Linked DNA regions of Homo sapiens. The protein of the gene in region 1 purifies or fractionates together with the protein of each later gene. This does not show direct contact. Each region holds a gene or a part of one and is shown in the gene's direction. Other genes may lie near its edges.

Region 1 (5,330 bases):
AAAACCCTATATAAAGGAAAGCTTTGAAGACTGTGGCAAATTAAATTGCATTATACATGTGCTTTGGATGAATTCAGTAAGGATTGATAGCATAGGGCAGTTATTATGCTCCATCTGGTGATTGAAAATAAAGTAGAAATATGCTAAGTATTAAATGATTATATTTGTAATAGTAGTTAACTTTTGGATTACTTTATACTATTCCTTGTGGAATTGAACATTTATGAACTTCTTTTAGATGTTTGCCTGGAATAAATACATTTAAATGGTTCCTAGTCAGAAATGTTTGTTAGAGCCAGTAAAGTATAACAAGCCCATGAAATTAAATTTATCAAGTACATCTGTGTTTAATATTGGTCTTCTGTGACCTTTTTGTTTTTCAGAAAGTTATCGGTATAGTTATTGGGAAAACAGATGTCAAAGGCTTTCCAGACAGAAAAAGCTGAGTTCTGTTTAACTCTTGGTTTCATTTTTCATCAACTTTGGCTTATGACTACAACAAAGTATATTGAAGTGATTAATTTTTCTATGCCTGTTTAACTCCTTAAGAGCAATGGTCATGCTCTCTATTGGATGGTCAAGTACCTGATTCAAGGCTTTCTCTCTCCCTCCCTCCCACATTCTCTCTCTCTCTCTATATATATGTATACATACACACATATGTGTATATATGTTTATGTGTATACACACACGTGTGTATGTGTGTGCATGTGTATGTGTGTGTATGTGTGTACACGTGTGTGTATATATGTATATTTGAGTACATGTGTTCTCTCTTTTTTTTTTTGAGATGGAGGCTCGCTCTGTCACTCAGGCTGGAGTGCAATGGCACGATCTCGACTCACTGCAACCTCTGCCTCCTGGGTTCAATCGATTCTCCTGCTTCAACCTCCCGAGTAGCTGGAATTACAGGCACATGCCATCATGCCCAGCTAATTTTTGTATTTTTAGTAGAGATGGGGTTTCACCATTTTGGCCAGGCTGGTCTTGAACTCCTGACCTCAAGTGATCTCCCTGCCTCGGCCTCCCAAAGTGCTGGAATTACAGGTGTGAGCCACCATGCCCAGCCCCTGGTTGATTTAAAAAAAACAAAAATTTGTAGAGACAGAGTCTTGCTCTGTTGCCCAGGCTGGTCTCAAACTCCTGGGCTCAAGTGATCATCCCACCTCATCCTCCTAGAGTGATCAGATTACAGGCATGATGCTTTTATCTTTAAGGTAAATAACCAAGCTGTCATCTGGTACCCATATCATTTGTGCCTGCACTTTATTTCATCTTAACTAATTAGATCAGAAATACTAAATAAATAGTTTGAGGAAGTCTATATCTCCTTTTACCAAATTTCAGAAGGCATCACTTAAAATGTGTGAATTAGAAAAAAGTAGTTATTAAAATACTTGCTAAAATTATAAAAATGAAATACACGGTTTTTTGCCAGGCACAGTGGTCACGCCTGTAATCCCAGCAGTTTGGGAGGCTGAGGTGGGCGGATCACCTGAGGTCAGGAGTTTGGGACCAGCCTAACCAACATGTAGAAACCCCCTCTCTACTAAAAATACAAAATTAGTCAGGCATGGTGGCAGGCGCTTGTATTCCCAGCTACTCGGGAGGCTGAGGCAGGAGAATCGCTTGAACCTGGGAGGCGCAGGTTGCAGTGAGCCAAGATCACGCCATTGCACTCCAGCCTGGGCAGCAAGAGTGAAACTCTGTCTCAAAAAAAAAAAAAAAAAAGAAAAGAAAAAGAAATTCACAGTTTTTCACCTATCAGACTGTGAGGGAAGGAGAAAAACTTCTGTGTTGTTTGACTTCTTTTTATGATGACATCTGTGGTATTCCTTTTTTGGAAGAAGTATGCTTACTGACTTAAAACATTGTACATATAACATTATATTTGTATCAAAAATTCCAGCAGTACCAAAGGTCACAGATTTGAAAAGTGAAATTCCCCTTTCAGCTCCTCACTCTTGCCATCCTAGTCCTCTCCCCAGAGGTAAACACTAATAGACAGTTCAGAATATGTCTATAATTTACATGTATGTTGAGTTATATTACTTTTTTTAAAAATTTGAGATAGGGTCTTGCTCTGTCACTCAGCCTGGAGTGCAGCAATGTGAATACAGCTCACTGCAGCCTCAACCCTGGGCTCAAGTGGTCTTCCTGCCTCAGCCTCGCATGTAGCCCAGACAGGTCCATGCTACTATGCCTGAATAATTTTTGGAGTTTTTGTAGAGACAGAGGGTCTCACTTTGTTGCCCAGTCTCGAACTCCTTGGCTGAAGCAATCTTACCCCCTTGGCCTCCCAAGGTGCCGGGATTATAGGCAGGAGCAACTGCGCCCAGCCAGGTTGTAATTTTTAATTAGCAAAACCAATATGAAATTTCTATTTTGGAAAAAAAGTATTTGCTGACCCCTAGTGGTCCTCATTAAGTAGCACATAATTTGTTTTGAAATAACTTATTTTAATTATTTTTAAAATTTATTTTTTTTTTTTTTGAGACAGGGTCTCACTCTGTTCTTCCCCACCTCTACTAAAAAACCTTGTCTCATCAGGCACGGTGGCTCATGCCAGCACTTTGGGAGGCTGAGGCAGGCAGATCACGAGGTCAGGAGTTCGAGACCAGCATGGCCAACATGGTGAAACCCCGTCTCTACTAAAAGTACAAAATTAGCCAGGCATGGTGGCAGGCGCCTGTAGTCCCAGCTACTTGGGAGGGTGAGGCAGGAGAATTGCTTGAACCCAGGAGGCAGAGGTTGCTGTGAGCTGAGATCGCGCCATTGCACTCCAGCCTGGGTAACAAGAGCGAAACTCCGTCTCAAAAACAAACAAAAACGAAACCCGTTTTTACTAAAAAAAAAACAAAAAACAAAAATTAGCCTGGCATGGTGGTGTGCGTCTGTAGCCCCAGCTGCTCAGGAGGCTGAGTCCCAGCTGCTGGGAGGCAGGGGTTGCAGTGAGCCGAGAGATCGCGTCACTGAACTCCAGCCTGGGTGTACATTTCATGAACACCCTGAACTCATTCTTCCCAGGCTGGAGTGCAGTGGTGCATTCAAAGCTCACCGCACACTTAAACTGGGCTCAAGCAACCTTTCCTCCTCAGCCTCCCAAGTAGCTGAGACTAAAGATGAGTGCCACCACTAATTTTAAAATTTTCTGTAGAGATGGTGTCCTTCTATGTTGCCCAGGCTGGTTTTGAACTCCAGGCCTCAAGTGATTCTCCTACCTCACCTCCCAAAGTCCTGGGATCACAGGGGTAAGCTGTTGTGCCTGGCCAATTTTTATTTTTATTTTATTATTATTTATTTATTTATTTTTGAGACAAGAGTTTTTCTCTTGTCACCCAGGCTGGATCTCGGCTCACTGCAACCTCCGCCTCCTGGGTTCAAGCGATTCTCCTGCCTCAGCCTCCCGAGTAGCTGGGATTACAGGCGCCCACCACCACGCCTGGCTAAGTTTTGTATTTTTAGCAGAGACAGGGTTTCACCATGTTGGCCAGACTGGTCTTGAACTAACCTCAGGTGATCCACCCGCCTCGGGCTCCCAAAGTGTTAGGATTACAGGCGTGAGCCATTGCGCCCGGCCTATTTTTACTTTTATTTTTGGGACGGGGTCTTGCTCTGTTGCCCAGGCTGGAGAGCAGTGGGGCAATCACAGTTCGCTGAAGCCTTGAACTTTTGGGCTTAAGCAGTCATTCTGCTTCATCCTCCTAAGTAGCTGGGACTGAAATAACTATTTAGATCTGAATTATGACTTAGGTTGAAACAACAGTAAGAGAGAAAAGGAGAACCTAAGGTAATACCTGGATGGCTCAAGTTTACATGTTTTTCCCTCCAAATACACAGATCACCAGGGAAGGGAGCAAGGGGGCAACCTGTTACCACTTCAGCTTGAAATTCATAGAAGCATGTTATAGAATATACATCTGAAAGAACATTTTGTACTATGTATTTGAGTATTTTTATTATCATAATCAATAGTTATTTGATTAAACAAATAATCATTTGTTTATAATTGAAATGAAACTTTTCATGTAACACTTATCAAAAGGCAGAGAAGCGATTGAAACTCTTCATTTGAAAAATAAAAGCATTGGTTTTCCCTTAGATATTGGATCAGAAAGGTACACTTTCAGCTTCACCATTCGGGATTCACCAGCACATTTTGTAAATGCAGCTTCCTGGGGCAATGAAGATTACATCAAGTCTCTTTCTGACAGCTTTAGGGTTGGTGACTGTGGTAAGTTGGCATTGATTCTTAAACTTTTTCCATCATAGTGTTATTCCTGTGGTATGTTTATGGTAACTATACTGAAGGAGTTGAAATGAGACACAGTTCGTAATTCTCAAGAACTTTATCAGAAAAAGTCAAGTGTTAAGAGTATAATGCAGTGGGGCACGGTGGCTCATGCCTGTAATCCCAACACTTTGGGAGGCTGAGGTGGGTGGATTGCGTGAGTTCAGGAGTTCGAGACCAGCCTGAGCAACATGGCAAGACCCCATTTCTACAAAAAATTAGCTGGGTGTGGTGGCGTGGGCCTGTAGTACCAGCTACTAAGGAGGCTGAAGCAGGAGGGTGGCTTGAGCCCTGGAGGTGGAGGTTGCAGCGAGCCAACATCGTACCTCTGCACTCCAGCCTGAGTCACAGAGTAAGACCCTGTCTCAAAAAAAAAAAAAAAAAAAAAAAAAGACTGCAATGCGAGGCATTCAGAATGTTATTTGAAGCATACAAATGTGATAGTTATATTTTTACTAAATAACCTTACTGTCTTTGGTTTATTACATATTTCAATTTGCACCAACCCATTTTATTGTTATAATTGGTTATCTTTCTATAGACATATAATACAGCCACTGAATATATTTTGATAAAAGTTGACATTTGACCACTGAATAGATTTTGATAAAAACTGATATTTAAATTGTTAATGGGATTTTAAGGAACTTTACTTTTAGTTGAAATACCAAATCTTTTACATCTACTCACCCCAGTATCTCTTTGACAGAACAGCCTCATATAGTAGGAAGAACAGGAGACTTTGAAAACACAGAGGTCTAGATTCAAATCCCAGTTCCAACATTGACTTACATCATGGCTTTGAGAAAATTTCTTAATCTTGTTGGGTCTCAACTATGAAATAATACCTCATTAGGTTCTTGTAAATATTAAATGAGATGGTGTACCTAGTATAACGTGTGGAACTTAGTCACTCAACAGATAACTTTTATGAGCCCTAGCCTCATAAAAGGAACAAGAAAGCATGTATACTAGTTCTTCACGATAGAAAAAGAGAAAAGAGTAATGCAGGTAATGAAAACACTCCTCTTTAATACTG
Region 2 (5,330 bases), on another chromosome or scaffold:
CAAACTCCTGGCCCCAAGCAATCCTCCCACCTTGGCCTCCCAGAGTGCTGGGATTACAGGCAGGAGCCACTGCATTTTGCTTTAACGCACATTTGCATGTTTTCTCGTGGGCATATCAACATGTCCAGAACTCAACTCTTGATTCCCCTTCAACCCACACCTATTCAGCTCCCATTGACCACTGCTGGTCAACTATGCCTGAATTCCAAAGGGAGGAAGGTATAATGAGGCTTGTGCGAACATCCGAACATCCGTTCCCATCATGGCCTGAACCAGTGTTTCAGTTTTACTTTAGAATGCCCTGGGCCGAGAGAAGGGCTACATTCAGTTAGTTGGGGGAGTTTAGAATTTTATTTTTGGCTGACATTCACCTTTCTAATGTAAACTATTAGCGACTCCTGGCTCTGTGGCTGCCTGGGGCTTTTACACATACACACCCACAGGCCCACACACATGCAAATACACACAGGCACACTAGTGAACCCTGTCTGGGCCCAGGCAGGGTCTGCAGCCTCCCCAGCGCCCCTCCCCACAGATCTAATCTCAGCCCTTCTCCTTGTACTTACTGGGGGTAGGGTGAGTGATAAAGGGGCAGGGATGGGTGCAGGAAGTTTGTGGGCAGGGGGCAGAGACTGGAGAGTCAGTGAAAATTGAAGAAAGCTGCTTAACCCAAGTTTGAAATCATGACACTAGAAACAACTCCAGCACCATAGTTATCACGCAGACTTCAACGTGGCCACCACCATTACCGCCACTTGGAGTCATCCCTCTTCCCCACCTAGCTGCCCCCTCCGTCCACGGTCCCGACTCAGGTCTTGCCTTCTCTGGTCACTTGTGCAATGCAGTTCCCCGCCCCTCCAGCCCCCTCTCCATCCCCGCACTGTTGGGCTGCACAAGCCAGGCTGTGTGCCTGCACTCTGCCCTGCACCTCCGCTAGCTAGCTGGGTGACCTTGGGCAAGGAACCAAACTTGCCTGAGCCTCAGTTCCCCGCTGTATCTGATGGGGATGATGAGCAAACCCACCACAGCGGTAGCTGGGAGCACGAATGGAGTGAACATGTGTTTGTGGACACTTAAACGGGCACTTCCCACAAGGCCATGGCCTTGCACGGAGGGCTCTGTCAACTGGTACCACCACTGTTGCTCTGGCATTAGCAGGTACAGGCCCTGATAGCCATTCAGAACTTCCTTTGAATGAATGAATGGAATCCTCAAAACAGCCTGGTGGGCAGGAGGCTGGGGCCCATGACAGCCTTGGGGAGGGCCTGGGGTCTTCTGGGGGCACAGTCTTTGCCTCAGGCCAACTCAGCAATTGTTGCAGAGGAATCGCAAGTGTCCCTAATTTGGAAGGCAGGAAATGGGGGGTATCTGAGAAGAGCTCGTTGGGCCAGATGATGGAAAGTGGACTGACAGAGCAGGAGACAGGAAGAGGATAACCATGCATGTGTGATGGCTTTGCAGGGCAGCCCATTCATTCATTCATTCAGGCAGTGGAAACAGGAGTGCAGACCCGAGGTGGGACCAGCCACCTGCACTCCAGCAGGCTCTCCCTCTCACTCCCCTCCCCTCTGCCCTGACAGCAGTAAAAAAATGCAAAAAATGACAGCGGTAGCACTTCCTCATCGGGTTGTGAAGGTTACATGAGTTTAATGCAGGTAAGGCACTTAGAATATGGGCACAGGACAGGTGTTCAGTAAACACGTATAAAATGGCTAACTAAAAAAAAAACACGAGGCCAGGTGCAGAGGCTCATGCCTGTCATCCCAGCACTTTGGGAGGCTGAAGTGGGGATCACCTGAGGTCAGGAGTTTGAGACCAGCCTGGCCAACAGAGCAAACCCCGTCACCACTAAAAATACAAAAAACAACAACAATAAAAAACTAGCCAGGTGTGGTAGCGCATGCCTGTAACCCCAACTACTCGGGAGGCGGAGGCAGGAGAATCGCTTGAACCCGGAAGGTGGAGGTTGCAGTGAGCCAAAATCGTGCCACTGCACTCCAGCCTGAGTGACAGAGTGAGACTCTGTCTCAAAAACAAAACAAAACAAAACAAAGAAAACCCATGAGGCCAGGCACGGTGGCTCACACCTGTAATCCCAGCACTGTGGGAGGTCAAGGATCACTTGAGCCCAGGGGTTCTAAAGCACCCTGGGCAACAAAAGTGAGACCCCATCTCTACAAAAAAATTTAAAAATTAGCTTGGCATGGTGGTGTGCGCCTGTAGTCCCAGCTACTCGGGAGGCCAAGGCAGGAGGATGGCCGGAGCCAGGAAGATCAAGGCTGCAGTGAGCTCTGATTGCACCACTGCACTCCAGCCTGGGCGACAGAGGAAGACCCTGTCTCAAAACAAACAAACCCCACAAACATTGATTGAACCCCCCATTGAGGGGAGCAGGCTCAATGGCAAAGGAAACAGACCGACACTGGCCAAGAATCACAGAAGCAAAGCACCCGGTTACTCATGATAAACCTGGGAAGGAAGAAAGTGGAACAGTTTATTCACTTAATGCTTGTTTGCTAAAGCCAAGTAGAAAACGGCAATACTAGATGTTTAGTGTGCTTCAAATACAAATGTTTGTCAAAATACCAAGTAAAAACATAAATTTATAAAACAGGAAACCAGAAACCTCCCTTACCTTTCCAATGTAAACCATGAGCCACTGCTGCCCCAAGGCTGCCTCAGGCTTCAGGAGTCCTCCAGGAGCTTTTTCTTTAATGCAGTGTCTGTTTTCAGGGACCCTCCTGGCCTTTGGCAGCCAGCTTCCTATTGCAGGAGCTGAGGGTCTAGGAGGGTTCATGGCGAGGTTGTCAGAGCTGGGAAGCAGAAAGCAGCCGGGCAGGCCTCACAGTCACAGAGTCCACGTCCCGGGCAGCATATGGAGAAAGGGTCTGGGCTGGCTGACAGCAGTCAGCATTGGCGCCTCTGAGGAGGTTGAGGGCTGAGTTGGGGAGGTCACCACCTGTACCCAGGCATAACAGGGGTGGTGCAATCAGCAAAGGGAAAGTGGTCTGAAGTGGGGCAGTGGTGAAAAGCTAGGCCAGCGGGGTGGAGCCCATCTGGAACAAGTAGGTGTGTGGGGTAGGGGACGCAGGTGGTTGCAGGTGGGCCGGTACCTGCTCAGCCTGTCAAATGGTGAAAGCCATGGACTATGAAGGTGGGGCTCAAGCAGGGGAGACTGACTCAGCCCTGCCACTTCCCCACAGCAAAGAGCCCAAACAGATCCCCTGGAGGGCTGTCGGGAGCCCCTACGTGGTGGAGTCCACAGGCGTGTACCTCTCCATACAGGCAGCTTCGGTAAGCTGGGGAGAGGTGCCCAGGGCTAGCTGGGGGGATGATGGTGCCAGAAGCCCCTGACACCTGCGCTTCCTCCCCAGGACCACATCTCTGCAGGTGCTCAACGTGTGGTCATCTCCGCGCCCTCACCGGATGCACCAATGTTCGTCATGGGTGTCAATGAAAATGACTATAACCCTGGCTCCATGAACATTGTGAGGTAATGTGGGCAGTGACATCCTGCAATGTGTGGAAGGGAGGGTAGACTCGTCCTCCCCACCCTCAGCCCCACTGGATTCCTGGTCGCTTGGCTTCTGCTTCTCCTTCCCGAAACTATCTGCTAAAAACGCATGACTTCCAGAGGACAAGCTTGGGGAGCCTCCCCAGCTGCACCTCAGTGCCTCCTTCAGTCTGACAGTGTCCCCACAGATCCCTCTCACCCTCATCCTGACGTTTCATAAAACCAAGTCTGCGTGCATACCCCAAGAGGGGTAAGGGTGGAGGGGTGGCTCTGCGACTCACCTCACAGTGTCCGTGCACACCTTGGCTGTTTCAGCAACGCGTCCTGCACCACCAACTGTTTGGCTCCCCTCGCCAAAGTCATCCACGAGCGATTTGGGATCGTGGAAGGGTTGATGGTGAGTTGAGGATGAGGGGCTGGGGCAGGAAGGATGGCAGGGAAACCCAACTTCTTCCCGGGCCTTGCTTACTGTATGGAGTTAAGAGGGAGAGACTGGTTTCGGGAGGAGAGGCCCACCAGTGCAGAAGTCACTTAAAACACTGTGCAACCCTCAGGCAAGGCTGGACCCTGGCCTGCACACATCCCCTCCTGTGGTCTGTGGTGGTGGCCCCACCAGCCTCCACACCTAGGCCACCAACTTAGTCCTGGAAAAAAGAGGCATGGGAGCTTAGGAGCATGAAGGCCTCATCTTGGTCCTTCTCTTCCCCAAGACCACAGTCCATTCCTACACGGCCACCCAGAAGACAGTGGACGGGCCATCAAGGAAGGCCTGGCGAGATGGGCGGGGTGCCCACCAGAACATCATCCCAGCCTCCACTGGGGCTGCGAAAGCTGTGACCAAAGTCATCCCAGAGCTCAAAGGGTATGAGGACAAGAAGCTGCAACCAGGGTGGGGGCATACGCCAGGAGGACTGGACTGGCCCGGCCCTCAGTCCTTAAGAGGAAAGCAGGGGCCTGGCCCAGCCACAGGGAAAGGGGGAATGGAGGGCAACGTCCCTAAGTTCTGACTCCTGTTCCTCATGGGGGATTCTCCAGGAAGCTGACAGGGATGGCGTTCCGGGTACCAACCCCGGATGTGTCTGTCGTGGACCTGACCTGCCGCCTCGCCCAGCCTGCCCCCTACTCAGCCATCAAGGAGGCTGTAAAAGCAGCAGCCAAGGGGCCCATGGCTGGCATCCTTGCCTACACCGAGGATGAGGTAGGGGCTGAGGAGAGGAGACCCTGGGAGGAGCCCTCTGGGAAGGGACATGATTTCCACTTGCCAGGGAGCTGCTCTCAATGTGCCAAGTCAGAAACTGCAGGGCAGGAAGGGAGATCTCCCTGCCTCAGGGCCTTTGCACTTGCTGTTCCTTTAGTCTGGAATGCTTCCCTTGCCAGGTGACCATACAGTCTGTCCTTACTTCCTCCAAGTCTCTGGAGGAACCTCCCTCTTCAGCAAGGCACCCCCTCAAAATATGTTCTTTTTGTGGCCATATTCCTCACCTGAAATTTCATTTCATAGTCACTGTTGGCCCCAGTGGTGTGTGCACTCCAAGAAAACAGGGATTTAGGGGCTGCCTTTTCACTTTTGTGGCTCCAACCTGGCATACAGCAGGTGACTAATACATGCTTAGTGAACAAAAGACAACAGCTCCCATTTTTTTCAATACTTGCTCAGGGCCAGGCCATGGCCAGATGCCTTCTCTGTGAGGAGTGGATGCCATGGTCATGGTGGACCCCTGTACATCCACCTTGGTGCTGTCTCCCTGCATTAACTCCTGCAGGTCCACTTTCCCACAGTCACTGGGATCTTTTGTTTTAATGGAATCACATTGCA

The links. Proteins that work in one complex are often made in the same cells at the same time.
Region 2: the proteins of MEIOB (region 1) and GAPDHS purify together in Homo sapiens (affinity purification with mass spectrometry; 3 studies listed by BioGRID and IntAct, with this or other methods). This does not show direct contact.

What each region holds. Positions count from the first base shown.
Region 1 is NC_000016.10:1,860,889-1,866,218, reverse strand, and holds part of MEIOB (meiosis-specific with OB domain-containing protein), read left to right. Parts: intron 1-383; coding exon 384-441; intron 442-4,102; coding exon 4,103-4,234; intron 4,235-5,330. UniProt on the Homo sapiens protein: Single-stranded DNA-binding protein required for homologous recombination in meiosis I. Required for double strand breaks (DSBs) repair and crossover formation and promotion of faithful and complete synapsis.
Region 2 is NC_000019.10:35,539,116-35,544,445, forward strand, and holds part of GAPDHS (glyceraldehyde-3-phosphate dehydrogenase, testis-specific), read left to right. Parts: intron 1-1,622; exon of another isoform or gene 1,623-2,469; intron 2,470-2,635; exon of another isoform or gene 2,636-2,959; intron 2,960-3,203; coding exon 3,204-3,294; intron 3,295-3,374; coding exon 3,375-3,493; intron 3,494-3,795; exon of another isoform or gene 3,796-3,829; coding exon 3,830-3,911; exon of another isoform or gene 3,912-4,158; intron 4,159-4,224; coding exon 4,225-4,376; intron 4,377-4,549; coding exon 4,550-4,712; intron 4,713-5,330. UniProt on the Homo sapiens protein: May play an important role in regulating the switch between different pathways for energy production during spermiogenesis and in the spermatozoon. Required for sperm motility and male fertility.